Homo sapiens: one gene and its partners. The protein of the gene in region 2 purifies or fractionates together with the protein of the main gene of each other region. This does not show direct contact. Each region holds a gene or a part of one and is shown on either strand. Other genes may lie near its edges.

Region 1 (7,025 bases), on a different chromosome or scaffold from region 2:
CTAGGTGCATAAAAGGAATAAAGCCCCAGTGGCATAAATGCCAAGAACTGGCCAGGTGCAGTGGCTCACGCCTGTAATCCTAGCACTTTGGGAGGCCAAGGCAGGCGGATCACTTGAGGTCAGGAGTTAGAGACCAGCCTGACCAACATGGTAAAACCCCGTCTCTACTAAAAATACAAAAATTAGCTGGGCGTGGTGGTACGTACCTGTAATCCCAGCTACTTGGGAGGCTGAGGCAGGAGAATCGCTTAAAGCCAGGAGGCGGAGGTTGCAGCAAGCCAAGATTACGCCACTGCACTCCAGCCTGGGCAACGGTGCGACACTCCGTCTCAAATAAATAAAAAATAAAAGCCAAGAATTCCTACATGAAATAAGCAAAAGCAGGCAAAAGTTTTCAGTAAGTTCTATACAGTTCTATTTTTTAATGTAACCTTAATTTCCGAGTGATCTTCTAAAGCCGAGGACTAAACTGAATAATCTCTCCCCGCTGTGCTCTCTCTAACAGCAAAATAGGCATGGTGATACCATTTGCATCTAGAATTTCATTTGGAAAGGGCTCAGAGACACTCCAAAAAAGTAGTCGTGCAAAACTCATCTTTCAGCACTGCCAGTTTAAAGCTAGCAAGATACCTTGAACACTAAGGCCTTAAATCATGGTACTAATAACAATAGCCAACATTTGTTGAATGCTTACTACCTTCTAAGTATTTTTTGCATTCTCAAAATAATCCTATGAGACAGAAATTTTACAAATGAGAAAATTTGTAAATCCATAACAGAGTTTTTAACAGATAAAGAAATTTATTACAGGTATGTGGTAAATTGAGAGAGGAAGATAAGGACTACACACAAAGCTAAATCCCTGCTAGGTCCAAAACTGGCAGCCAGAAAAAAGCAAGGCAAAAGATGATGAGGACCAAAATTCAAAAGCCTGCAAAGCTCCTCCATAACCCGTGCACCGCTCCCTTTTCCTCCCCTGTCCAATTAACTCTTTGTCTTCACGCAATCTATCACAGAGATTCTCAAAGCATCAACGTCACCTGGGAACTTGTAAGTCATATAAATCTTCAGGCCCCACCTCAGACCTACTGAATTAGAAACCCTAAGGTCCAGCAATCGGTGTTACAATGAGCCCTCCAGATGATCTCTAATGCATGTTTGAGATCATTTGGTCGTTTAAGTTCTAACACCCTCAAAAAACAGGTGGTCAGCAGTGCCTCATATAGTACAATCTTAGTTACTGCCAGGTATTGGTTGACTGGTCATCTCGCCCTATTTTCCTTAATGCAGGAAAGAACCTATAAATTAGCTACTTTCTACAGTAGCTTTTCTTTTAAAAGATAAGCTTGCTTACAAATATAAGTGATATTATCTACTGGCTTTTATTACAGAGTAGTTTCAAGAATTATAGTTACAGTATTTTCAAATAGGATGTCTTTACAAATGTTATTTCACTTCCTGAAAAGACTGTAATTATTTGGCCTCCTGACAAAATGATACTGAGTAATTAATCTGAACATAAGAAAAACGTTTTCAGGCACAGGTTCTCATTACAAACATTCCCTGAGTGTTAGAGCTGACCGACATCATCCTTCTAATAAATAATCTAGAAAAAGGGCAGACTATACAAATTCATGGTAACTTGACAATTGGCTGTCCATTTTTTTTTTAAAAAAAGTAAAATTCATACCTCACATTTCTGAAAGACAGTACATTCAAACTGAGTAACTGAGGAGAGTACAAAAAGGGAACTATTTACAAAGGTATAGCAGAGTTTACGGAAACCAAAAAAGATGGTGCAGTATCCTAGGACTAGCAATAACAGAAAGTCATTACCGCCCCTAGGCCTGAAGGGGCAAGGGGAGAGAGCAAGCAGAGAGGGTCACTGTGTTAGGAAGCCTCCTTCTGGGTAACACAGCAAACCCATAATGGTGACCTGGCAGGGAGGGAGCTGGGAAATAAACATGAAGCAAAAACGGACAGAACTAAAAGTGGAAATAGAAAAATGCACAATCACATCTAGATATTAATAGCTTTAAGTAGCTCTCTTGGTAAATAATGGAAGAAGTAGGAAAAAATAAAGAAGGATACAGGATAAGGATAATTTTTTCTCAGCCTTCTGGCAAAGACCAAGTATAGACGTAAAGAAAGAGAAGATTGGAAAACATTATTAATCACTTGGCCTAAATGACATTTATGGAACACTACACCCAACAACAGAATGCATATTCTATTTATTATTTATTTAAGTATTACTGCAAGTATGTTTTTATTTTCTCAACCTATCAACTGAATATTGTATTTTATAAAGCACTTTTTAGTATTGTAATTGGTTCCTCATGATCAGAATGCATATCCTTTTTAAATGCACATGGAACATTCACCAAAATAAATTATAGGCTGGACCATAAAGCAAGTCTCAAGGAATTTAAAGATGAGACCAGGCACAATGGCTGGTGCCTATAATCCCAGCACTTTGGGAGGCCGAGGTGGGTGGATCACCTGAGGCCAGGAGTTTGAGACCAGCCAGACCAACATAGTGAAACCCCATCTCTACTAAAAATACAAAATTAGCTGAGCGTGGTGGCTGGCACATGCCTGTAATCCTAGCTACTTGGGAGACTGAAGCAGGAGAATTGCTTGAACCAGGGAGGCGGAGGTTGCAGTGAGCCGAGATAGCGCCATTGCACTCCAGCCTGGGCAACAAGAGTGAAACTCTGTGTCAAAAAAAATTAAAAAAGAAAATTAAAGGATGGAAGTCATAAAGATTATGTTTTCTTACCACAGTGGAATTAAACTGGAAATCAGTAACAAAAAGGTAACTGGAAAATCCCCAAACATTTGGAAATCAAGCAACAGGCTTCTTAAAAAATCCAAAAAATAAATCACAACGGAAATTGGACTCATTGGGAAACAGGGTGGTGATCAATGAGCCACATCTGCAATAGACAAAAGGGAAAAGTTATGACATTCATATGGACCAGGCATCTGCCATCTCTGCCTCAAACATTGATGTTCTTGGCCATCTTCTGTTACTACACTACACTTTCCTCAGTCATTTAATCCATACCAATGTCCCAACTCTGACCTCTATACAACCTTTTTTTTTTTTTCAGTTAAGGGTACTCTTCAAACACCATATACAACTAATTCTTTAAATGTCTATTTTGGCTCAGATCTCTCTCCTGAGTTTCATACCTGCCAGTAGCCTACTGGAGACTTTACCTAGATATTCCAGAGACAACTCAACAAACACACAGAAACAGAATTCTATATTGTCCATTGTGTGCGCCTAACCACCTCTAACCAGCTCCACCTCTTGTATTCCTATCTCAGTGACTAACACTTTATCTCCTCAGCCTAGAAGACCTTCCACATCTCTCTCACACCACTTGCCCTCTACACAACTACTACTGAAATATCTTCATCTCCCCATTGAACCTTCCCTAACTTTTCCTCTAGCACAAATTGATCACTCCATTAGTCTTTCTGCTAGCACAGGATCTGATTTATGCTTCTGTAATGGAAATACAAATTCAAGGAGATAAGAGACATTTTCTAACAATTAAAGAAGAGCTTTTTATCTACTTCCAAAATAGAGATAGGATATTCTATTTCCACTTAAAAGATACACTCAGAATTTGTACTAAATTACTAGAATATTCTGTTTCCACTTAAAAGATACACTCAGAATTTGTAATATTTTTTCTTTTAAATGCCAATATTTACAACATACTGGAAATGTCATCGTTTGCAACTATTTAAACTTACCAGGAAAACTTTAGCTATTAACCTAAAAATGTTCAAAGGGATACATATTTTTAAAATCCTCCTAGCAGATAAATAAGAAAAATTTTTGAAGACTACTGTTTAGTCTACAGGACTCTTTTTTTCTTGGTGCAAGGCCTAAGTTTTAATCATCATTTTATCCCCAATACCTGAAACCTACCAGATATTCAATAAATGTTTGACAAATGAATAATTATAATTTTAAATTTTTTCTTAAGTATTGTTTTTAAGCTGTAATGTTTTCTCCTTTGAAAACATCCCACCTACTAATGTGCTTATAAGTCAAGCCATCTATAATGATTTAAGTGAGGTAGTTTACTCTCTAAAGGGGAATAAGAATACTTATAAGACAACAGGTAACATAATTTAGGCAAAAGAAGCAAATGTATGCCTTTCTTCATGTAAACTGTGGGTTTACTTGAACTAGACTCAAATACTATTGAAGTGTCTAAAGTGCCTGAACCTTGCTGGATTTCTGATTGGTTCAGTTCACAGGGGCTCCTGTTAAGAAGTACACTACAGTCTTTATTATTATCCTGAGATTCTTCATGATAGCCCTTCTGGTGCACCATATCCTCTCAAGTCTTAAATGTTTGTATGCAGCCATTCATTGAGCATTCAATGGTCTCACTTTGACCAGAACAGCAAGAACATAAAGAATTATTCAACTGATATGACATCATGGCTTTTAAATTCCATAATGAGACCAAGTAAGTCCATTAAGTTGGTGACAGAGAGTGGCAACAATGCCCAAAGTTTCAGTGAATCTGTCAAAATTGAGAAGCTAACCAAAGGGGCAAATTGTTAAATTCAACCAAATTTGGTCTAAGGATGCCTCCGTACTTGGAGTCCTTATGTAATGAATTGCAACATAACTTTGTATGTAAATTAACTGAAACCGGAACTTAGGAGTATACTTTGGTAACAAATAGATGAGTCTTAGCCAATCTGAGCAGCTGAGCTTGGGTCAACCACAGGCTGCCAACTGATGAGACCGTGTTCAAGTAAGGCAAACACTGAGTTATAGCCAAGTAAGCTGTTTCCGTACCTGACTTCCATTTTCTGTCCATAAATGCTGCCTGCTCACGTTTCAGAATGGAGCTCTCTGAGCTTATTCTGGTTCTGAGGACTGCCCAATTCACAAATTGTTCTGTGCTTAAATTCTGTTAAGTTTAGTGAGTCTAAAGTTTCTAACAGTAGCTTTGACAAAGAAGTTGGTTTCATGAGGGTTTTTCAACAGCGGCCCTATGAACATTTTGGGCCAGATAATTTTTTGTTGTGAGGGGCTGTCCTGTGTGTCATGGACTGTTTAGCAGCATCACTGGCCTCTACCCGCTAGATGCCAGTAGCACCCCTCCCTCCTGGTTCTGATAACCAAAAAGAAACATCTCCAGACATTGCTAAATGTCCCCTGAGGGGGAGAAATCACCTTGGGTTGAGAACTACTGGGTTAGTGTCATCATTTTTATATATACTAAACTTAGACCCAAGAGAAAACTAAATATATCAGCAATTCCCACACTAGTCTATGTGCCCCTAATGCAGATCTGCCTAATGATTTATAAGCTTACCATTGTTCTGAGCCTTTCTGTTAAATTCTTGAATACACAATGGGGTCAGAATATCCTCAGGGTCAAAATAACCTGCTGCAGGTTTAAAGTAGTTAATAATTTCCCCAAGGTTCAATACCTGATAAATACAAAACTTAGACCAAAACCACAGTATAGTTCTTTCCTCTTTACACTGTATTTCTCAGTTGAAGCCACAGTTCTATATTTCCCCTCCTCAAAGTTATTTCTATCTAATCCTATTGTAGCCCAAGGATATAATCTTAAAATAACAAAAATTCATGTAGATGGATGTTTATTGCATTGTTTATATATTTTAGACAACATGAATGTGCAAGAATGAGACAGTAAAATAAATTATATGGACAAACATATAAACTTAATAACTACTTTAAACAATCATGTACAATGATATTTATTACCATGTTAATATGTTCACAATAATGGATGTAATAATTATAAAACATACATGATCCCATTTCTTTAAAAAAATGTATCTGTATAAATATACATATCATCCAGGCACAGTGGCTCAAATCTGTAATCCCAGCACTTTGGGAGGCAAAGATGGGCAGATCACTTTAAGTCAGGAGTTCGAGACCAGCCTGGCCAACATGGTGAAACCCCATCTCTACCAAAAATACAAAAATTAGCTGGGGTGGCTCATATGGTTTGCCTGTGTCCGACCCAAATCTTGTCTTGAATTCTAGCTCCCATAATCCCCATGTGTCATGGGAGGGACCCAGTGGGAGGTAATTGAATCATGGGGGCAGGTTTTTCCTGTGCTGTTCTCGTGGTAGTGAAAAAGTCTCACGAGGTCTGATGGTTCTATAAAGGGGAGTTTCTGTACACAAGCTCTCTTACTTGCCGCTATGTAAGACGTGACTTTTCTCCTCCTTCGCCTTCCACAATGATTGTGAGGCCTACCCAGCCATGCGAAACTATTGAGTCCATGAAACCTCTTTTTCTTCATAAATTACCCAGTCTCTGGCATGTCCTTATAGCAGTGTGAGAACAGATTAATACAGTGGTGCACACCTGTAGTCCCAGCTACTTGGGAGGCTGAAGCAGGAGAATCGCTTGAACCCAGGAGGTGGAGGTTGCAGTAAGCCAAGACTGCTCCACTGCACTCCAGCCTGGGTGCCACAGCAAGACTCCATCTCAAAAATAAATAAATAAATAATTATACATATATATGTAATCTGATAGGATTAATGCTAAAAAGTTGATAATTATAAATTTGGGTGGGAGGATCATGTTTTAGGGAATCTGTACTTATCACTCTTCTATAATAAACATAGATTGCTGTGTAAAAGTATTTTAGGGTATTTCTATAAACAAATTTACTTCATATACAAGAGTCATAAAGAAAAAACTGTGAATCCCTTTAATAATAATGGCGTTAAAGGAAAGCACCAAAATGTCATGATATATTTATACAGTTATGTTTCTAGGTTTATCATTTGATCTATAGTATATTTGAATCCATTTAACATCAGAGTCCCACTGAAACAACTTGCTTGGCTCCATCTGTAAAAACACTACAATAATCTTTATTGAAAACTCTCTGCAGTAGATATCCTTGTTAACCTCTTTGCTCTTAAAACCAAGAGACAGTAATTTTAATGGAAGTATAAAGAGATATAAAGAATTTACAATTATAGATAC
Region 2 (7,397 bases):
ATTTCACCACAGGTGTGCTCTAATAATTTCCTCTGCAGGGTCCACCTCTGCACACAACGATTTTCAAGCCTGTGCAGGAGGCAGCTCTTGGCCCTCTATTCCTTGTTGGGGTTGGAGGTCCAGGTCATCTGGCCTTTGCCAGGTGGTGTGGACAGAGAGAGAGCAGCCCACTGGCTTCCTTGGCTGTGCTCCCCAGGGAGCTTCCAGGCCAGCTGAGCCTCCTCTAGGGCAGATGGATGAAGATGAGGTCCCCACCTCGCTGAACAATGTGTGTGTCAGCAGAATTCTTTTCTTCTTTTTACTGCCTTAGAGAGACATGCTGACTTGGTCAAAATCACTTCAGCAAGATGTGACTGATGATGTAGGAAATGAAAACTCCTGGCCCAGCACTGGGAGGCCAGCAGGCGAGGGGCGCGGACACTGGGACCGGGCCACCCGACACAATAACACCCCTTACAATTCCAGGCCGTCTTTCATCCAGGCAAAGGCGGCCCCAGGTGTGGAGCAGACTGGGGCAGATCAGATTACGGTCCTGGAGCCCAGTGCTGGGTGCCCTGGCCAGGGGAACCACAACTGGGGGTGTGTGGGTTGGGGGCTAGCTGCTGGGGAAATGAGATAGGACCCAGGGAAGTCCCTGGGCCCCAGCTGGCCTGCAGGGGGCCTAGGCACAATGTGAGGATTGGAATGCAGTGATGACCTTTTCATCTCTCATGTTCCCTTCCACTTCACTCTCTCTTTTGCTCTGGTACTTTTGCTCTTGCTCTCAGAGTCAGGATACATCTGCTTTTCTCTGCTTGGCCAAAAAGCAGACCATCATGAAAAGTTTTGTTGTTATTTTGTAACTCAGGAGGCTTTCCTGTTACCATATTTTCCTTTTCATCCAGATGGTAACACAATAACATTTATCAAGGGTTTTCTCTGTGTTCCAGGCACTGTGCAAAGCCCTTTCCATGAATTAAGTTCTGCAACCTCACAGCGATCCCAGAAGACAGGCGCTATCAGTCACCCCATTTTACAGATGGGGGAACTGAGGTGTAGAGAGGTTAAGTCCCTTGCCCATGGTGCACAGCTGGAAGAGACAGAGCTGGAGTGTGAATGCGGCTGGGCAGGCTCCAGTGCCCAGGCTACCTCCTCCACACAAGACTTGCCCTCGGCAATCTCAAAGCCTTTTCTGGTGGTGGGCTCAGCTCCCAAACTGGCATCGGATGCACTCCCAGCCAGATATTTCTTGCTTGCCGGTTTTCATTCATTCATTCATTCATTCATTCATTCATTCATTCGGCATTCACTGAGGGCCTGGTGCAGTCTTGGGGATGCCTCTCGGGGAGGAAACAGGGAAAAGAAAGACCCCCCCACCAAGCATGGATCACAGAAAAGATAAGGCTAAATGGGGGTTTGTGGGACTTCAGAGGAAACCTTATCTCTTGAGGTCTTGGATATGAAGAGCATGTTGTCTCTTCCTCTTGCATGAGAAAAGATGGCGTCTCAGAGGAAGGGTTGCTGGGGTGAGGGATCTGGGAGATGCCTTAGCTTGGCGCCTGCACAGTCAGCCCTCAGTCAACCGGTCTCTTTAGGTTTTGGCTGTGCTTATTACTATTCATTCAACAGGTACTAATTGAGCACCTGCTGTGTGCCAGGCTCAGAATAGGCTCAGGTGAGATGCACAAAGAAGGGTAAACTAGAATCCTTGCTTAGACACTGACGGATCAGTTGTTTCATATGTAAATTGTAGCACCAAGACCTGCTGCCCCTGCCCCCAGCCTCACCTGCTTGTGAAGATCCCTCCAAAAGATTTGAGAGTAGATAAAAAGCAGAGACTACTACTGAAGAACAGGGCTGCTTTGGCTCCTTATTATTTCAGACTTTGGAAGAAAATGACCTCCTTTTTCTCTACTGGCACTGGAGGTGGCATAGCCTGTCCCTAGCAAGCCAGCGCTGGAGGGCGTGTGCAGGGCTGGGGACCGAGCCTGGTTTCTGTTCCCTGCTCTGCAGGGCTCAAGCACTTGCTGTTCCTCCACCTGGGATGCCTTTCCCTGGAAAAGCCTGTCTCTTTCTTGTCTTTCAGGACTCAGGTCAGTGGCATCTCCTCCAAAAACTCCCCTTCCCACCCTCCATCACCTCACCCTGTTTATCTGCGCCCCCGCCCCCACTGCCTGTCACTTATTGCAGGCTGAAGTGACCCAGGCTCTCCAGTTGTACACTCTCAGATGGACCCTGGACGACTGTGGCACTCCTGCAATTTCCCCAGTCTCCCTGGGGTAGGATTCCTGCTTGCCAGGATGCCCACCTTTCCTTCTCCCTCCTGCATGTCCTCCTCTGCCTGGCTTCTGAATTGTTTCCAGAGAGAGTGATAGACAAGATCTGCCTCTCCTTCAGTCCCTGAATCTTATTTAAGGCTCTTGCTTTGCTTCCCTGGCCTGGAGGCCGGCTCCTTGATGGAGTCTGCCATGTGGGTTCGCTCATGGCCATGTCTTCCTGCCCAGCATGGTGCTTGGCCCTGGGACTGGCCACATAATATCTGGGCCAGGTGCAAAATTAGTACGGGGCAGGGGGTACTTTGTTCATAGGTGATTCAGAACCACATATGGTGACCTCAGAGTAGGAAACCAAGTGTGGGGCCCTTAAGAGCTGGGGGGCCCTGTACGACTGTCCAGGTTGCAGGCCCCACAGCTCGCCTCCTGATATCCTGTGCTCCATGCTTGTCTGTTGAAGGAAGGAGTGAATGGATGAAGAGCAGGTGGTGGGGGTGGTTTGAGGGCCTTGCCTGGTGGGTGGGTAGAGGCCCCTCCCTGGCATGGGGCTCAAGACCTGTTCCATCCCACAGCCTGGGGCCTGTGTGTAAATGGCCAGGACCTGCAGGCTGGCATTTTTCTGCTCCTTGCCTGGCCTCTGGCCTCCCCTTTCTCCACCCATGTGGCCCCTCAGGCTGCCATCTAGTCCAAAAGTCCCCAAGGGAGACCCAGAGGGCCACTTGGCCAAACTACTTCTGCTCCAGAAAACTGTAGAAGACCATAATTCTCTTCCCCAGCTCTCCTGCTCCAGGAAGGACAGCCCCAAAGTGAGGCTTAGCCAGAGCCCCTCCCAGACAAGCGCCCCCGCTTCCCCAACCTCAGCCCTTCCCAGTTCATCCCAAAGGCCCTCTGGGGACCCACTCTCTCACCCAGCCCCAGGAGGGGAAGGAGACAGGATGAACTTTTACCCCGCTGCCCTCACTGCCACTCTGGGTGCAGTAATTCCCTTGAGATCCCACACCGGCAGAGGGACCGGTGGGTTCTGAGTGGTCTGGGGACTCCCTGTGACAGCGTGCATGGCTCGGTATTGATTGAGGGATGAATGGATGAGGAGAGACAGGAGAGGAGGCCGATGGGGAGGTCTCAGGCACAGACCCTTGGAGGGGAAGAGGATGTGAAGACCAGCGGCTGGCTCCCCAGGCACTGCCACGAGGAGGGCTGATGGGAAGCCCTAGTGGTGGGGCTGGGGTGTCTGGTCTCAGGCTGAGGGGTGGCTGGAAAGATACAGGGCCCCGAAGAGGAGGAGGTGGGAAGAACCCCCCCAGCTCACACGCAGTTCACTTATTCACTCAACAAATCGTGACTGCGCAGCTACAGTGGCTACCAGGCGCTGGGTTCAAGGCACTGCGGGTACCAGAGGTGCGGAGAAGATCGCTGATCCGGGCCCCAGTGCTCTGGGTGTCTAGCGGGGGTAAGAAGGCAATAAAGAAGGCACGGAGTAACTCAAACAGCAATTCCAGACAGCAAGAGAAACTACAGGAAAGAAAACAAACGTGCGAGGGGCGAGGCGAGGAAACAACCTCAGCTTGGCAGGTCTTGGAGGTCTCTGGGAGGAGAAAGCAGCGTCTGATGGGGGCGGGAGGTGGTGAGTGGGGAGAGGTCCAGGCGGAGGGAATGGCGAGCGCAGAGACAGGCTGGCAACGGCTTCAGGGAGGCGCGGAGGGGTCAGCGTGGCTGGCTTAAAAGGATACAGGGACTGAGGGGCAAGACCGGCTCAAGGGTCACCGCTTCCAGGAAGCCTTCTATTTCCGCGCCACCTCCGCGCTCCCCCAACTTTTCCCACCGCGGTCCGCAGCCCACCCGTCCTGCTCGGGCCGCCTTCCTGGTCCGGACCGCGAGTGCCGAGAGGGCAGGGCCGGCTCCGATTCCTCCAGCCGCATCCCCGCGACGTCCCGCCAGGCTCTAGGCACCCCGTGGGCACTCAGTAAACATTTGTCGAGCGCTCTAGAGGGAATGAATGAACCCACTGGGCACAGCTGGGGGGAGGGCGGGGCCGAGGGCAGGTGGGAGGCCGCCGGCGCGGGAGGGGCCCCTCGAAGCCCGTCCTCCTCCTCCTCCTCCTCCGCCCAGGCCCCAGCGCGTACCACTCTGGCGCTCCCGAGGCGGCCTCTTGTGCGATCCAGGGCGCACAAGGCTGGGAGAGCGCCCCGGGGCCCCTGCTATCCGCGCCGGAGGTTGGAAGAGGGTGGGTTGCCGCCGCCCGAGGGCGAGAGCGCCAGAGGAGCGGGAAGAAGGAGCGCTCGCCCGCCCGCCTGCCTCCTCGCTGCCTCCCCGGCGTTGGCTCTCTGGACTCCTAGGCTTGCTGGCTGCTCCTCCCACCCGCGCCCGCCTCCTCACTCGCCTTTTCGTTCGCCGGGGCTGCTTTCCAAGCCCTGCGGTGCGCCCGGGCGAGTGCGGGGCGAGGGGCCCGGGGCCAGCACCGAGCAGGGGGCGGGGGTCCGGGCAGAGCGCGGCCGGCCGGGGAGGGGCCATGTCTGGCGCGGGCGCAGCGGGGCCCGTCTGCAGCAAGTGACCGAGCGGCGCGGACGGCCGCCTGCCCCCTCTGCCACCTGGGGCGGTGCGGGCCCGGAGCCCGGAGCCCGGGTAGCGCGTAGAGCCGGCGCGATGCACGTGCGCTCACTGCGAGCTGCGGCGCCGCACAGCTTCGTGGCGCTCTGGGCACCCCTGTTCCTGCTGCGCTCCGCCCTGGCCGACTTCAGCCTGGACAACGAGGTGCACTCGAGCTTCATCCACCGGCGCCTCCGCAGCCAGGAGCGGCGGGAGATGCAGCGCGAGATCCTCTCCATTTTGGGCTTGCCCCACCGCCCGCGCCCGCACCTCCAGGGCAAGCACAACTCGGCACCCATGTTCATGCTGGACCTGTACAACGCCATGGCGGTGGAGGAGGGCGGCGGGCCCGGCGGCCAGGGCTTCTCCTACCCCTACAAGGCCGTCTTCAGTACCCAGGGCCCCCCTCTGGCCAGCCTGCAAGATAGCCATTTCCTCACCGACGCCGACATGGTCATGAGCTTCGTCAACCTCGGTGAGTAAGGGCAGGCGAGGGTACGCGTCTCCTTTCGGGGGCACTTTGAGACTGGGAGGGAGGGAGCCGCTTCTTCTATGCAGCCCGCCCAGCTTTCCGCTCCTGGCTGAAATCGCAGTGCCTGCCCGAGGGTCTCCCACCCACAGCCCTATGACTCCCAAGCTGTGTGCGCCCCCAGGTCGGGCGCGCTGGGTTCGGTGAGCCTGTAGGGGTTACTGGGAAGGAGGGATCCTCCGAAGTCCCCTCCATGTTACGCCGCCGGCCGCATCTCTGGGGCTGGAGGCAAGGGCCGTTCAAAGCGCGGGGCTCGGTCATGTGAGCTGTCCCGGGCCGGCGCGGCTCGCGCTACCTGGATGTAAAGGGCCCTTCCCGGCGAGGCTGCCTTGCCGCCCTTCCTGGGCCCCTCTCAGCCCTGCCTGGCTCTGGCATCGCGGCCGTCGCACCCCCTTACCCTCCCTGTCAAGCCCTACCTGTCCCCTCGTGGTGCGCCCGCCTTAGCGTACCGCGCGCTCCGAGCGCCTTGGGGCCCCTCTCCGGGCCGCCGGATGCCCCATTCTCTCTTGGCTGGAGCTGGGGAAGAAACGGTGCCATTGCTAATTTTCTTTGTTTTCTTTCTTTGTTTATTTTTTTCTTTTTTCTTTTTTTTTCTTTTCTTTTCTTTTTTTTTTTTTTTGAGACGGAGTTTCACTCTTGTCGCCCAGTCTGGAGTGCAATGGCGCGATCTCTGCTCACCGCAACCTCTGCCTCCCGGGTTCAAGCGATTCTCGTGCCTCAGCCTCCCGAGTAGCTGGGATTACAGGCATGCGCCACCATGCCTGGCTAATTTTGTATTTTTAGTAGAGACAGGGTTTCTCCATGTTAGGCAGGCTGGTCTCGAACTCCCGATCTCAGGTGATCCTCCCGCCTCAGCCTCCCAAAGTGGTGCTGGGATTACAGGCGTGAGCCACTGTGCCCTGCCGCTAGTCTTCTATTTTAAGTATTTAGTGGTAGGTCCCGGGCCGGCAGAATCTATTTTCAGCATTTACCACGTGTGGCGCGCAAACCACAGGTTTTGGCGATTGGGTTGCGCGGGATCTCAGAGCTGACGCCGCGGGGGCGGCTGGGGGTCCCGGTTTCCGACTGGAGCCGCGACGACCCCGGCGACGCGAGCCTGGGGCTGCAGCGAGGGCCGGGGAGCTCCCCCTCCATATGTGCGCGCACATTCTCCAGACTTGCTCAAACTAACCCCCCGGCAGCGCCAGCGCGCTGCGGGACTGATGATCAAATATTTGGTTTCCGAGATAACACACCCCGATAGCGCTGTTTCCTGAGCCGCTTTCATTCTACTTGTGTAACTTGCTGCGAAAACCCGAACCAAGTCAAGACAGCAAACTCACGCCCACGGGCGCTGTGTCAACATGGAAATAATGATACTGAAGCCCCACGCTGGGCACCTGGGGCGTGGACTGGGGGCGCGGGGGAAGCGCAGATCCGCCTTCATGCTTCCCCCTCCTGATAAGGTCCCTGGAGTTCCCGGGAGGCCATTGTCTGTACTTAATAATAACTAAATCCAACTAGTGAACCAAGCTTCAGCGAGCAAGGGGTGGGAGGTTTAGATGCCAAAATACCTTCAAAAAAGTTTAAATTATACTAAGCAGCCAGTTAAGAAGGAAGCAGCAACATATGACCTGATTTAGAACCATCTCCAAGATGTATGAGGTGGAAAGAAGCAAGGTGCAGATGAGTGGGCTGCATGTGTGCTTGTATATCATCGTGTCCTCCTGGAGGAAGACACCAGGAACTGGAGAGAGATTTTACTGGAGGGGTAGAGAGGCGGGGGCATAGCTGGGGCTTACGGAGTGGGAGGTGGGGTCTGATTTTTCGTCGTCTGCACTTCTGTATTTGTGATTTTTTTAAAACAATGTGTATTTATTAACTATACCAAAAACTAAAGGAAAATTCCAAATACATACATATAAATAATGAACGCAGAGCTCTGTCGCCCTCCTGAAGCCTGGGGTTAGCCAGGGCCCTTTCTCTGGTGGGGGATTTATAGCATCTTCCCTTCTGTTGGGTACCCCGGACTCCCACTGAATGTGCAGGTC
Region 3 (7,025 bases), on a different chromosome or scaffold from region 2:
AAAAACAATTTTATAATGTGCAATAATCAGGTAACTAGGTTTTTCAGTTAAAAAATGTAATGACCTTATATAAGCTAGATTACTGAGACTATGGTATTAAACAATCCATTTGCTCCTCTAAGGAATATTTACAATTTAAAACCTGCTTTCCAGCAAGCTGGGCCAGGTTTCACATTAATTTACTTTTCATATATAATACAGAAAATGAAAATAAATATTAACCTTATAGTAAAGGACTCATCTCTGAAAACACATGTTCTGATGCTTTAGATAACGAGTTGAGAATATAATACAGAAATGAATTCAGCTTCAAGTTGTGCTTGCATATATATTTTCTGAAGCTTTGCTGCCAGCTTGTTAACAGGAAAAGACCACCTATCACATCCACATCCATTATGTGCTTTTCTCATGCCCCTAGGGATCATGGTGCTTGGTCAAGTATATATTTGAGTCAAATTCTCCAAAGCATAAATTACTCTCCGATTTTAGGTTAGGGCCCTTTGGAAGCCATGGTTATTTGTTCAGAATGCAACATATTATTAATACACCAAGGCAATAATTTACCAAGTCATTAGGTTGAACCATATGAAAGTGTCTATATTCATTTCACCTATCATTTTAACCTATAAAAATGATCACTTGGCTGGGTGCAGTGGCTCATGCCTGTAATCCCAGTACTTTGGGAGGTGGAGGAGGGTGGATCACGAGGTCAGGAGATCGAGGCCGTCCTGGCTAACACAGTGAAACCCCGTCTCTACTAAAAATACAAAAAATTAGCTGGGCGTGGTGGCGGGCGCCTGTAGTCCCAGTTACTCAGGAGGCTTGAACCTGGGAGGCAGAGGTTGCAGAGAGCTAAGATCGCGCCACTGCACTCCAGCCTGGGTGACAGAGTGAGACTCTGTCTCAAAAAAAAAATAAAAAATAAAAGATTACTTACATATGGTTCAATTTGTCATTATCCTGGAACCAATAGAGAGTAGTTTGAGCCCTAGGAGAATATGAATCAATACACTGTTGAGATTGCATTGCGTTCACTGATGGTGACCTTCCCTCTTGCCTTTAAGGCAACCATAAGTGAGGCAAATGTACCATATAGAGATGGATGAGACTGGACCTTTTGTCTTTTTCTGTCTCCAAACTGACTTTGTCATTTTTGAAACTGCTGTAAACATTCCTCTCAATGGAACAGCCTCTGCCCAACAAATAAAGTTCTCACTCTTGAAAGAAACTACACCAGGGTTAGGAGATCAAATGTGGCATGTGACTGTGACTTTGTAGATGAGTGGAACCTCTGCCATAACTCTTTCTGCTCCCCAAATTGTCCTGAGAATTTGGCTAGGACAGAACATTAGTCATTGACTGCTCCTAGCCAGATCTGGAGAACTGAGCTAGGCACAAAATTCCATCTCAGTTACTATAATCAAAAACCTTCTGCTGCTTTGATACTTAGTTTTTTGGCCATGCATCTTGGCAGGAATGTAAGTTTGATTGACTGTGTTAACCTTCATGTTGAGAGCCTTTTGAAGCAGAAATCTCTTTTATTGGTACACATACAACTTGATTTCAAAAATGGAATAAATTAGAATATAATGGCATAGTATAATTAAGCTTGGTTTCATCTGAGATCTGCAACCACATTAAAGGGTGTCAGAAAAATTTTTTAAAATGTATTTACTTAGAGTTCTTTCATCTGGGGAACAAAAGTAAAACAAAGTGAATTATATAATATAATAGTCCTTTTAGAACAGCAGAGTGGTATCCAAAAATCAAACCAATGACCTACTAAGAAAAGCAGAGGATCACTTTTCTAACAACAGTCCAAGAAGGCCTGAAGTACCTAGTGAGCCACACTTGAAATTTCACCACTTCATAAATATCTGCACACACTGAGTAAATAACCCTCTATCACATAGCCTTAAATTGCACCCCTGTTGCAATACTGCATTAATATTATTACATTTTTCAAAATCTGTAGAAAATATTATCTGGAACCCCAAAGGAAAATCAATTAATTTTTAAAAAGTTCATTACAAAGTTGACTGTATAAAATGCTAAAACATAATCCATATATACAAAATGCTGTTGTTTAAGAAAATAATGGGACCCAGTTTTAGAATAAAATAATTTTATACAAAAAAGCCTACTGCATTCAAATCAATATTTTAAAAAAAAACTTTAAAAAAGAATATTGACATGTCTTAGTTCAGAAGAATAACTATAAAGTGTTGATTTGCTTTTATGCCCTCTGCACATCTTGCAGGTAGAACACCAGTCAGCTGAGGGAAAGTATCCTGCTTCTCCCTAGGAAGAGATTCATCACCAAGGCAGACAGTCATCGCCGAGATGCGTACTTGGAAGCCCAGTCTGTCCGGCCATGCACTGGCTGGGCGGCTGGAGGCCGTGGTATCAACCCAGGAGTGCTTCTAGGCTGGGTGTGGAAGAATGGTCGCCCAGGATGAGGTCTCATGGCCTTCAGGGAGGAATAACCTGCAATGAAAGAAAAAGGCCGGCATGACTGATATGGGGCCAATGTAAGCAAAGTACAAATAAATGCATTTTGGTGACAAAAACATGAGAAAATAAGGAGTTCAAGAGGAGCATCTTGTCTCCTACTTATAATCTTCTCTACTGCAGTTAAAGACATCGTTTTAAAGTTGTCAGGCCAAAAATAATGGCATCATTCTTGACCCCTCTTTTTTTCATATACCACATATAATTTGTCAGGATATCCTATTAGTTCTACCTTCCAAATATTTACAGAACCTGGCAACTTTTTACCAACTGAACTACTACCACGCTGGCCCAAGCTAGCATCATTTCTTACCTGGATAATTTCAACATCCTCCTAATTGGATTCCCTGCTTCCTACCTTGCCCCTACTTCAGTCTCATGACAACAGCAGCTTGAGGGAGCCTGTGGAGATGGCTGTCAGATCACCTCACTTATGGACTCAAAGCCCTCCAGGGACTCCACGTCACTCAGAATCCATGACAATGTGCTTACAGGCATCGTATCACCCCTGACCTCATCTTGCTACTCCCCCTCTCACTCCTGTCACTCCCACACTCTGGCCTCCTTGCTGCTCCTTGAATTTGCCAGGCCAGTTCTGCCTGAAAGCTCAAGCACAGAACAATCTCCTGTCTGGAAAAGCCTCACTCATACTGTATGCTTGCTCAATCACCTCCTCCAGGTCTCTACTCAACAACTCCTTTGCAGTGAGCTCTTCTTTAGCTACTCTATCTAAAATTGTAACCTGTACCCCACACTCCAACCCCCACAATCCCTACCTCCTGTCTGCTGTATTTTTCTCCTTAGCACTAAGTCAGTAAGCATCTGACTTACTATATGTTATATAGCACTTATTTAGCTTACTTATTGTCTGTAGAGTGCAAGTTTCATTTATTGGTGGATCCCAGGCCTAAAACATGCCTGGCACAAAGCAGTTGTTGAGTAACCATTTGTTGAGTAAATTCATGAATAATTTAAAATACAACTCACCAGGGGAAGGGTCTGGAATAGGTGCTAGGTGTACCCTCTGCATAGCAGAACCGATTTCTTTTTTCAGAAAGGAAGGGACATAGTTTCCAGTCAGTCCACTAGAACTTGTAGAGCTGGAACCAACTGATTTGCAAAAGCAAAAAGCTCATTATTACAAAGACATGTACCCAGGACACCAACAAGGTTAAATGACAGCACTGCAGAGCAATAACAAACTAAGTTTTTACTTTTAGGGAAAAGAGCAAATCATGATAAAAATGAGTTCAGAGCCAAGCATCCCACCATACTACCCTGTCAGAAAGACTGCGGGGGCCAAAGACAGTGCTGCTCCTGTGAGGGGCAACCAAATAGAGGGTGGGTTGGTTGTGAAATTTTTTTAAAAAAGGGAAATATGACATTTGTTCTTTATTTTCTTTTGTAAAAGTAGATTTAGACTATTCTAAAATTTGCTTTTTTCACTCCATAATATAGAATAGTTATCCTTCCATGTGAGTACATATAAATTCTAGAGTATGGCTAAACCATAATCCATTTAACCATTTTCTTATTGATCAACACACAGGTTATATTAAATTATTTAGCTGTGACAAGTAATTACACACTAAATATTCTTATCCACATCAGAAAAATTAACCATTTTTTACAATGTGAAATACCTTAACTTTTTATGTCATTTCCACTTGGGAGTGCTTTAAGGGCAGGGACTGTATGCTACTCGTCTTGGTATTCTGGGGAGGATAACAGAATGCCTTGCATATAGCAGATAATCAATTAATTTTGGATGGGTGAATGAATATAATTCTTATTATTTAGGCTTAAAGGTACACATGGAATAATGAAGACTGTTATTATTGCCCGTTATAGAAATGGAAATTCTAACCATTAAGAAAAGTCAGTAAGTAGTAGAGTTGCTCTGTTTTCACAACACAGAGCTTTTTCAGCAATTGTTTAAGGCAGAGTGGAAACACAGTCTAGAATGCCTGCGTGAGGAGTTGCGTTGGTCAGCTGGGGTGTATTTTGTACTTTGGTGAATGAAGAAACATGAAGAAAAATGGGAAGAGAATTTGAACAGGTAAGTCACAAAAGAGAAAAAACTTATAGTCAATAAACACAAGAAAAGATGATGAACCTCATTAGTAAATAGGACATGCAAGTTTAAACCACAATAGGATACCATTTCTCACTCATCAGATTAGCACAAATTTTAGTCTTGACAGTACCAAGTGGCATCAAGGATGCAGAGCAACTCCCATATCCCGCTGGAGAGCAAGTAGTTTGGCAATATCTGTGAAGTTGAAGATGAGCACACCCTTTAACCTAAAATGTTGACTCTGGCTGGGCATGGTGGCTCACACTTGTAATCCCAGCACAATGGGAGACCCAGGCGGGTGGATCACCTGAGGTCAGGAGTTCGAGACCAGCCTGGCCAACATGGTGAAACCCTGTTTCTACTAAAAATACAAAAAAAAAAAAAAATTAGCTGGGTGTGGTGGCACATGCCTGTAATCCTAGCTACTTGGGAGGCTGAGGCAGGAGAATTGCTTGAACCAGGGAGGCAGAGGTTGCAGTGAGCCGAGATCATGCCACTGCACTCCAGCCTGGGCAACAGAGCAAGACTGCGTCTTAAAATAAATAAATAAATAAAAATAAATAAATAAAATAAAATAAAATAAAATAAAATGTTGACTCCTAGTTCTCGTACCCAGAGGAATCCTCACACATGTGCATAACAATAGGGGTACAATAATCATCTCAGCACTCTTTCTAATAGCAAAAATTGCAATCAACTTATGTATTTATCAAGAAGAGAAGGCATACATAAATTATGGTCCACATAAATAATAAGTTATGGTGTTGTATAGATATATATTGTATATGTTATATAATATATGATATATATCTCTATAATTGCTACACATATATTTATTAAAATGCATGAAGCAGTGATCCAAGATTATCTTCACATAAATTTTAAAACCTGCAAAACCACACTATGAAGTTTATACAAACCTAAATAAACACTCGATCAGGCTGGCATGGGGGGAGGTAAGGGGAAGCAGGGAGGCGGGAAAGGCACAGACACTGGGCTTCATGTGTATTTGCCAAGTTCAACTTTTTTTTTTTTTTTTGAGACAGAATCTCACTCTATCACCCAGGTTGGAGTGCAGTGGCGCAATCTTGGCTCACTGCAACCTCCGCCTCCCAGGTTCAAGTGATATCCTGCCTCAGCCTCCTGAGTAGCTGGGATTACAGGCCTGCTGCCACCATGCCTGGCTAATTTTTATATTTTAGGTAGAGACAGGGTTTTACCATGTTGGCCAGGCTGGTCTCAAACTCCTGACCTCAAGTGATTCACCTGCCTCAGCCTCAGCCTCCCAAAGTGCTGGGATTACAGGCATGAGCCACCACACCTGGCCAAAGTTTGACTTCTTAAGCTGGGTGATGGCTACACAGGTGTTGCTATATTATCTCTTTCTTTTTTATTTTCCTTAAATTAAACAAACACCTAATGGATGAAGGCAGTGCACTTGGCAGTGCAGAGGGGAAAGCAGCACATGGCAGGGGCTGCCTGCATCAGGGAAAAATGATGCAGGAAACGTCTCTACTGTGAACAGGGTTTGTCAGCCTTGGGACTCAGTAAATTCATTCATCCGTTTAACAAAAAAAGTGGGGAGGGTCTTCCAAACTGTCCACCTTCCAACTAGAAGGGATCTTGATACTCTGGGCCTGCAGCTGGGTCATCAGAAGGAGGGGACAGGCTGGAACAAGGCAGACACAGCCAAGGGTGACTTCCACCTCAAGAGGAGGGTGCCTGCTGCAGCCAGGGCTTTAGCCATCAGGCCTAGTAAGAGTCTGTAAAGGTATTTTTGTTTTTCCCTTGAGCCAGGGATGACTATGCTCTACTCCCCAGCTACCCTGGAAGGCAGACTCCCCTGGGAGCTGGCTGAGTCCCAAGGGACTGCTGCCGAGAAAGAGAGGAGGATAGGGCTGGAAAAGAGGCCTGAGCTTTCAGATGACAAAGGCCCCTGTGCTTCCAAAGCCCGTCCCATGACTCCTTGTGCCCACCTTCCTGCATCCAGGGAATTTGCTTTTTGCCATTTAGGGGTTAATGATCATTACTCACCTGAATTTACTTTGCTGATTACTGACATTGTCCCTGAAGATTTTCCAGACAAGCCAGAACTAGACCATGGATTAGGTGGAATAAATTCCTTGCCTGGATTCGAGAGTATGCCATTTCTTATACTGATCCCTGATAGAGAAGAAATGATTTTAAAATGCAAAATACACAATGAATCTTACACTAGACTACAAAGATAAAATTAATGCAGAACTCAATTTGTCAAAAACTCTCTATGATACAATAATCAAAGCAAAAACTGACTGTGATGATGTCATCTGACAGATGTCCGAGGAAAGATATCTCACTGGTTGGTGGCCCGAGAGAGGCCTCTTATGCTTCTAAGATCCAATGGATCTGTCCCACCTCTTGGCCCTCTGGTGCCATCCTGGGCTTCACTGCTGCT
Region 4 (7,025 bases), on a different chromosome or scaffold from region 2:
ATCACATACATACAAGCTGATTGAGCTCGAGTTTATGTAACTATTCTTGTCCAATCTGTTCTTTTAACAATCTCTTATGGCCTGGCTTTTTGTGCTTTTTTTTTTTTTTTCTGTAATGGCAACCTTACTGGTGTAATTAGTAGTCCAAATATATTTGGATAGTTCTTATGCTTATGTACTAAGCAGCTAAAGAGGGAATATTACAGGATGGTTAAAAGTACAGACTCTGGAGATGAAATGCTTGTCATGGATCTCTGAATCTGTCACTTGCTAACTTTCTGATTGGGGGACAAATTAACTTCTGTCTTATTTTTCTTTTTATCATCTGTAAAATGTGGTATACCTTCTTCATAGGGTCATTGTAAAGGTTAAATGAGGAAGACAGTGCTTCCTGACTTTTTTCACATGGCACATATAGAAAATGATGAATTTTTACAGGTGGGTAAAAGAATGAGCTACAAGGAAATCCTACATAGACCTTGCATGACCGCCTCCAGGACTGGTGGAATCAGTAGTCCAGCTATACTTCCCGCTCGTTAATGGGCCACAAGTATATCATAGGATACATGTTGAAGAGCTGTGAATTCATTCATGAAAAATATTTTAAATACATAGCAGAAGTTTAGAAAGCCTGAGTCATTGTTTCATATAAGTAGAGAGGACACTGCAGTAACTAAAGAACTGCCATTCCTGCCAGGCAAGAAACTCAGCATCTTAAACTATAGACTGTCTGTCCTAGAGGTATTAAAGTTTTCATACTTCATAAAGGTGTTAAACATTTGCATCTGTCTTTCAGATATTGTTCCGGTATCTTACAACTTTTAGTCAACACGCGATTAGAGCTCAGTTAAGAGCTCATTAAGTCTTTGGGCTACATATTGCTTATTGATTGTGGTTATCATTTCACTACCTAATTCTCACTTTTGTCTATAATTAGGGTCGTCGGGCTGTTAAAGCGGGAGCTTATGCTGCTTGCCAGGAAGCAAAGGAAGATATAAAGGTAACTTTCTGAATTAGGGGGAAAAAGAGAAGTTAAAGATGAATGTACATTACAAGAGCCCAAGTAGAATAATTTGAGTGATGATGTCGTTGAAGTGGTTTGGGGCACCTAGATGCAGAGATTTGGAACTGGCAGGGTTATGTGATTTCTTCATTTGAAGTATAAATCCCTTAACTAAAAGCAAATTTTAAATGCTATTTTTTTGGTTCGTTCCCTTCATTTGTAGAGTCATTCAGAAAATGTCTCTCAACATCCACTTCATGTAGAAGTATTACACTCAGAGATTATGGCTCATCAGAAATTTGCTTTGCGTCTTGGTTCCTGGATGAACAAAATTATGAGCTATTCAAGTAAGCATACCTCCTGTTTTTCTTGTTTCTGATAAAATACTATGTGTTTTATAGCCACAAATTTTAAAATGTCATTGAGTATGAAATAAAGTTTTTCTTTTTTTTTTTTTTTTGGTTTATACACTTTGATTAATTTTCAGGGTTGCATTTCAAATGTATAATATCTTAGGATATTATTTCAAGTGCATAGTATCAAATAATATCTTTTTATTGGCTGTTGAGTCTTTGATGTTGACAGAATTATTCTTTGCCTCAAATGTGGGAGGATTAATATTATTCTTTTCACATGTTATAGGAAATGTACTTTTAGGAGAAATGTTATAAGAATAAAAATTATGGCTGAGTACAGGGGCTCATGTCTGTAATGCCAGCACTGTGAGAGGCTGAGGTGGAAGGATCGCTTGAGCCCAGGAGTTCAAGACCAACCTGGGCAACAGAGTGAGACTCATCTCTATTTAAAAAGAAAAAGAATACAAGTTGTGTAACTGTGTGACCTCTTTTGTTTGTAGGTGACTTTAGGCAGATCTTTTGCCAAGCATGCCTTAGAGAAGAACCTGACTCGGAGAATCCCTGTCTCATAAGCAGGTTAATGCTTTGGGATGCAAAGCTTTATAAAGGTAAGTAGACATTTGCTTATGCTGTTTGTCAGGAAGCAAAGGAAGATTATGACCTTAAAGTGGAGCTGTAATATCTTTTGTTTATTAAATTAGTTATTAAATCTGTAATCTTGATTGATAAGATACTACATGTGAATATAAAGTTTAACCAGTCAGTATGTATTCTTTGGTGTTAAAACCCAGGGATGTTGTCTTTTAATTATAGAGTCTTTTCATTTAGTGAGAGCCAGTCAAAAAGAGTATATATGTATGTGTCTATACATGTATCTATATATTCAGGTAGTAGTGCCATTATCGAGTAGCGAAAAAGATGCTATTTTCATTGTAAAAATCTAAATGAAGAACAAAACGTAAAAGGCTAAAAGCATGGAGAAGGAAAAGTACAGTGAAATAGAAAAAGAATGAAAAGGTTGGGAGAGAGTAAATTGAAGTGTAAGATGAAGTGGTGGGAGGGGTGCAGAAAAAGAGGGAAAAGGCAATATATGTGTGTATTTTAAATTCCAGTTATTAAATATTAATACAATAAATACTATTTGAGGTCTGTTTGCATGTGAAGTAATTTTATAATATTCTGCCACTCTAATAGCCAGAATGTTTTTGGTTTTTGCCTTGGTGATTCTCCTCATTCCCCCACCCTCCCCAAAATAATCTATAGGTGCCCGTAAGATCCTTCATGAATTGATCTTCAGCAGTTTTTTTATGGAGATGGAATACAAAAAACTCTTTGCTATGGAATTTGTGAAGGTAATTATTTATAAATTAGATATCAATAAATAGAAATAGGCAGTTTTTATAAATGAATTAATAGAAACAGGGATAATTATGAATCAAAAATTAAATGTTATGATTTATTTCTTTGTCAAAAGTTTGTTCTTGGCCCTGCGGGTTGGCTCACGCCTGTAATCCCAGCACTTTGGGAGGCTGAGGTGGGTGGATCATTTGAAGTCAGGAGCTCGAGACCAGCCTGGCCAACACGGTGAAACCCCGTCTCTACTACAAATACAAAAATTAGCCAGGCATGGTGGCAGGTGCCTGTAGTCCCAGCTACTCAGGAGGCTGAGGCAGGAAAATCACTTGAACCTGAGAGGCAGAGGTTGCAGTGAGCCAAGATCGCGCCACTGCCCTCTAGTCTGGGCAACAGAGTGAGACTCCCATCTCAAAAAAAAAAAAAAAGTTCGTTCTCATACGTTATATAAATATTTTCACAAATGTTATTTGCTAGTATAGAAACAGCATTCTTAGAGAAGAGATAGGTGGAAAATGACCCACTGACCCAGAGCAAAGGGAGGTTATCACATTCACATATGCATTCAGTCTTCCTAATCATTTATTTGCCTGTTAGTAAAATTACAATAAGAATAGAAGTGACTAATTGAAAAGTATAGCAGGAAAGAAGAACAGATGTGTATGCTAAAGTGGGGGGCAGGAATTAGGTGGCCAAGAGTTCTACTTAGTTTTTGGAAGCTAAAGCATAAGGCTAAAATTTACAGCTTTTTAATGTTTTATTAATCTATCGTGTATCTCTTACCTTACTGTATCTTTTTGTCTATCTACCAAATTAGATTGCAAGGGTATACAGATCAAGGACTCCTTTGAATCTTTTATTTTGCCTTATATAAGGCAATCATACTTGCCAGTCATACTTGTTGATTTCCTCTGATTTTGAGTTGCAGTCAATTCTGTAAGACTTAAGATAGATATAGGACCCAAGATGGAATTGGAAGCAGAGAAAGAAATAATGATTGTTGTAGGCAAATGACACTGTGGGATAAGATACCTGCATTACCTGGATTTTATATGCAGACTTAAAAGTAACTAAGACATTTGTTGTATGTCTTATCCTTCAGCAGTGATGGCAACTCAAGATGTTCTCTTCTAAAACTCTTCAGATATAGAATATTGGACCATATGTGTGATCTGAAATGAAATTTTGTTTTCTTATACAAAAGCTAATCTCCCTACTTAGATGATTTTTTTTGTACACCATGGTTACCCCTTAAACTTTGTAGGAATTCTGGAGGGTAAAGTATCTAACTTAAAGTAGGTTAAGTATCCAACTTTGTGCCTTACACATAATAGATGCCTATTATGTGACTGAGTATATTCCTATTTTTGTTCTCCCAGTATATCAGGGTTGTTTTGCAGCTGTTATGTACCAGTATGGGAAAGAAGTTATTTGCAGCCAGCATCCATTCTGTTTAAGGCTGGATTCAATCTGATTGGTTGGTTTTTCTGGGTCATATCAGTTGTTAAATACTTTGAATATATTCCCTGCCCAATACCATTAGAGTGGAAGCTGCTAAAGATTGCCCCAGATTCTGTTTGGAGAAAGGATAAACTATACCATTGCAGTCCTCTGTTTTTTGTTTGTTTGTTTGTTTGTTTTTTAACCTATGTGTATATTTTAATAGTTTCCACTTCTATCTCTGCTAAATTGAGTAGGTGAATTTTTACTTGATTTGTTGTTTGTTATTCTCCTTCTAAGATATTTTTGCTGATCATAATATCTTGCCTTAATAAATAGGAATTATATTACTTGACATTTTATAGATAGAAACAAACCTGCAGCAGTTATTAAAATTGGGATTTTTTAAAGGTCTTTAGTAGTGATTTATAATTGATTCTCTACTTATATATTTCAGTATTATAAACAACTGCAGAAAGAATATATCAGTGATGATCATGACAGAAGTATCTCTATAACTGCACTTTCAGTTCAGATGTTTACTGTTCCTACTCTGGTATGTATTGATTATTCCTTTTCAGTCTTTCTAAGTAAAACTTGTTTTGCTTTGTAAGAATTCCACTTAATGTTGAATCAAATTAGAACAATGTTAGAATCACTAAGTTGGGCTATGTGAATACTTTAGTGCTACCCAAGGACTAGTTAACTAGGCGCTGCCTTGGTTCAGATGTCCTCGTCAATGCAGATGACACCTAGAGCTGGTTTCTTACTTTCTAGAGTAACTTATGAACACTGCCTTTTCAATACCAAAAATATTTTATTTTTAAGTTATTGTTTGTAGGCAGATAGAATAAGATAAAACTAAGAAGTGGGAGGGTGTGCCTGTCAAGCATTTGGGAGAGAGGGTGCTGCATAGGCCTGGGAGGAGAGTGGAAGATTCTGCTTCCTTTGTATACCACTTCTTTTCTTTGTTTTTTGTTTCTTGAGACAGAGTCTTGGCTGGGTTGCCCTGGCTGGAGTGCAATGGGACGACCTGGGCTCACTGCAGCCTCCGCCTCCCGGGTTCAAGCGATTCTCATGCCTCAGCCACCCAAGTAGCTGGGACTACGGGCAGGCACCACCACGCCTGGTTGATTTTTGTATTTTTAGTAGAGACGGGGTTTCACCATGTTGGCCAGGCTGGTCTCAAACTCCTGACCTCAGGTGATCTGCCAGCCTTAGCCTCCCAAAGTGCTGGGATTACAAGTGTGAGCCACCGCGCCCAGCCCTACTTCTTTTCTTGTCTGGAATTAGATAGTTATCCAAACTTGGTTAATTGTTTCTACTTTACTTTTTCAAAAGGATGGAGAGGAGAGTTTAGATTGGGGTAAGGAGGAGATTTCAGAATAGATCGTAGTGTGCTAGAAGTCATGAAGTATATCTTTGTTATACTTGCTCATTGTGTGATTTTTTTTTTTGAGATGAAGTCTCTCTCTGTCACTCAGGCTGGGGTGTAGTAGCACGATCTCGGCTCACTGCAACCTCCGCCTCCTGGTTCAAGCGATTCTCCTGCCTCAGCCTCCTGAATAACTGAGATTACAGGCATTGCCACCACACCTGGCTAATTTTTGTATTTTTTGTGGAGATGGGGTTTTGCCATGTTGACCAGGATAGTCTCGAACTCCTGAGTTCAGGTGATCCGCCTGCCTCGGCCTCCCAAAGTCCTGGGATTACAGGCATGAGCCACCACATTACTGATGATAAACATTTATCTAGATAACCTGTCTAATGGGCTTGGAGTATCCAGATAGGTGTTGTCTAGTTACTGAGGAGTAGGGAATTTTTTCTTTTAGAAAATAACTTCTTAGTAGTTGCTATTCAGTGAAACTAAGGACTGTGTTTAACATTCAATAACAAACATTTATTAAAAATGACATACTGACTAACCAAATGAATGAATAAATTAAGTCCATACCACAATGAGTTAATGCTAAAGAAAATATTCTTGAAATATTCCGCAGGCTCGACATCTTATTGAAGAGCAGAATGTTATCTCTGTCATTACTGAAACTCTGCTAGAAGTTTTACCTGAGTACTTGGACAGGAACAATAAATTCAACTTCCAGGGTTATAGCCAGGACAAATTGGGAAGAGTATATGCAGTAATATGTGACCTAAAGTAAGTTGTTCAAGTCAAAAGGTGAGGGCACCTGTTAAACTCAGTGTGCTTATTTGCTGTGTCTTATAAGTAATCCTGTGATCATTTTGGTTATCCAGAATTCTCTTTATAATGATGGCAAGTACAAAGAACTGTTACTGCCTCGCGTTAATAAATGTCTTCAGTGAAGGCTTCTTATTGAGTTGTAAAACCTGGTTAGTAAAGAAGGTATTGAGGAGAGGCCCATTACAGGAACTTGGGATCTCCTGGGGTCACCAAATGCATTGCCATTGTAATTACCATACTTTTCATTCACTTCCACTCACACACTTTGGTTCTGTCCTTCCTATATAGTCTCTTTGTGCATAGTTTCAGACAATCTATTGACATAAATTTCTTTCTTTTTTTTTTTGAGACAGGGTCTCGCTGTGTTGCCCAAGCTGGAGTGCAGTGATGCAAACATGGCTCACTGAAGCCTCAACCTCCTGGGCTCCAGTGATCCTCCTGCCTCAGCCTCCCATGTAGCTGGGACCACAGGCACGTGCCACCATGCCTGGCAAATTTTTTATTGTTTTGTAGAGACGGAGTCTCACTTTTTGTTGCCCAGGCTGACTTGGACTCCTGGGGTCAAGCAGTCCTTCTGCTTTGGCCTCCCATAGTGTTGGGATTACAGTCATGAGCTACTGCGGCTGGCTGTTAACATTTTTTTAACTCCTTTTTGCTATACAGTTGATCC

The links.
Region 1: the proteins of BMP7 (region 2) and VWA8 purify together in Homo sapiens (affinity purification with mass spectrometry; 3 studies listed by BioGRID and IntAct, with this or other methods). This does not show direct contact.
Region 3: the proteins of BMP7 (region 2) and CILK1 purify together in Homo sapiens (affinity purification with mass spectrometry; 2 studies listed by BioGRID and IntAct, with this or other methods). This does not show direct contact.
Region 4: the proteins of BMP7 (region 2) and UBR1 purify together in Homo sapiens (affinity purification with mass spectrometry; 3 studies listed by BioGRID and IntAct, with this or other methods). This does not show direct contact.

Annotation. Positions count from the first base shown.
Region 1 is NC_000013.11:41,951,086-41,958,110, forward strand, and holds part of VWA8 (von Willebrand factor A domain-containing protein 8 isoform a precursor), read right to left. Parts: intron 1-7,025. UniProt on the Homo sapiens protein: Exhibits ATPase activity in vitro.
Region 2 is NC_000020.11:57,263,621-57,271,017, reverse strand, and holds the start of BMP7 (bone morphogenetic protein 7 preproprotein), read left to right. Parts: upstream 1-4,376; 5' UTR 4,377-4,895; coding exon 4,896-5,313; intron 5,314-7,397. UniProt on the Homo sapiens protein: Growth factor of the TGF-beta superfamily that plays important role in various biological processes, including embryogenesis, hematopoiesis, neurogenesis and skeletal morphogenesis.
Region 3 is NC_000006.12:53,002,817-53,009,841, forward strand, and holds part of CILK1 (serine/threonine-protein kinase ICK), read right to left. Parts: intron 6,752-7,025; coding exon 6,623-6,751; intron 4,784-6,622; exon of another isoform or gene 4,673-4,783; intron 3,622-4,672; coding exon 3,499-3,621; intron 2,488-3,498; coding exon 2,333-2,487; 3' UTR 1-2,332.
Region 4 is NC_000015.10:43,054,027-43,061,051, reverse strand, and holds part of UBR1 (E3 ubiquitin-protein ligase UBR1), read left to right. Parts: intron 1-937; coding exon 938-1,000; intron 1,001-1,226; coding exon 1,227-1,350; intron 1,351-1,859; coding exon 1,860-1,967; intron 1,968-2,622; coding exon 2,623-2,711; intron 2,712-4,609; coding exon 4,610-4,708; intron 4,709-6,152; coding exon 6,153-6,310; intron 6,311-7,025. UniProt on the Homo sapiens protein: E3 ubiquitin-protein ligase which is a component of the N-end rule pathway. Recognizes and binds proteins bearing specific N-terminal residues that are destabilizing according to the N-end rule, leading to their ubiquitination and subsequent degradation.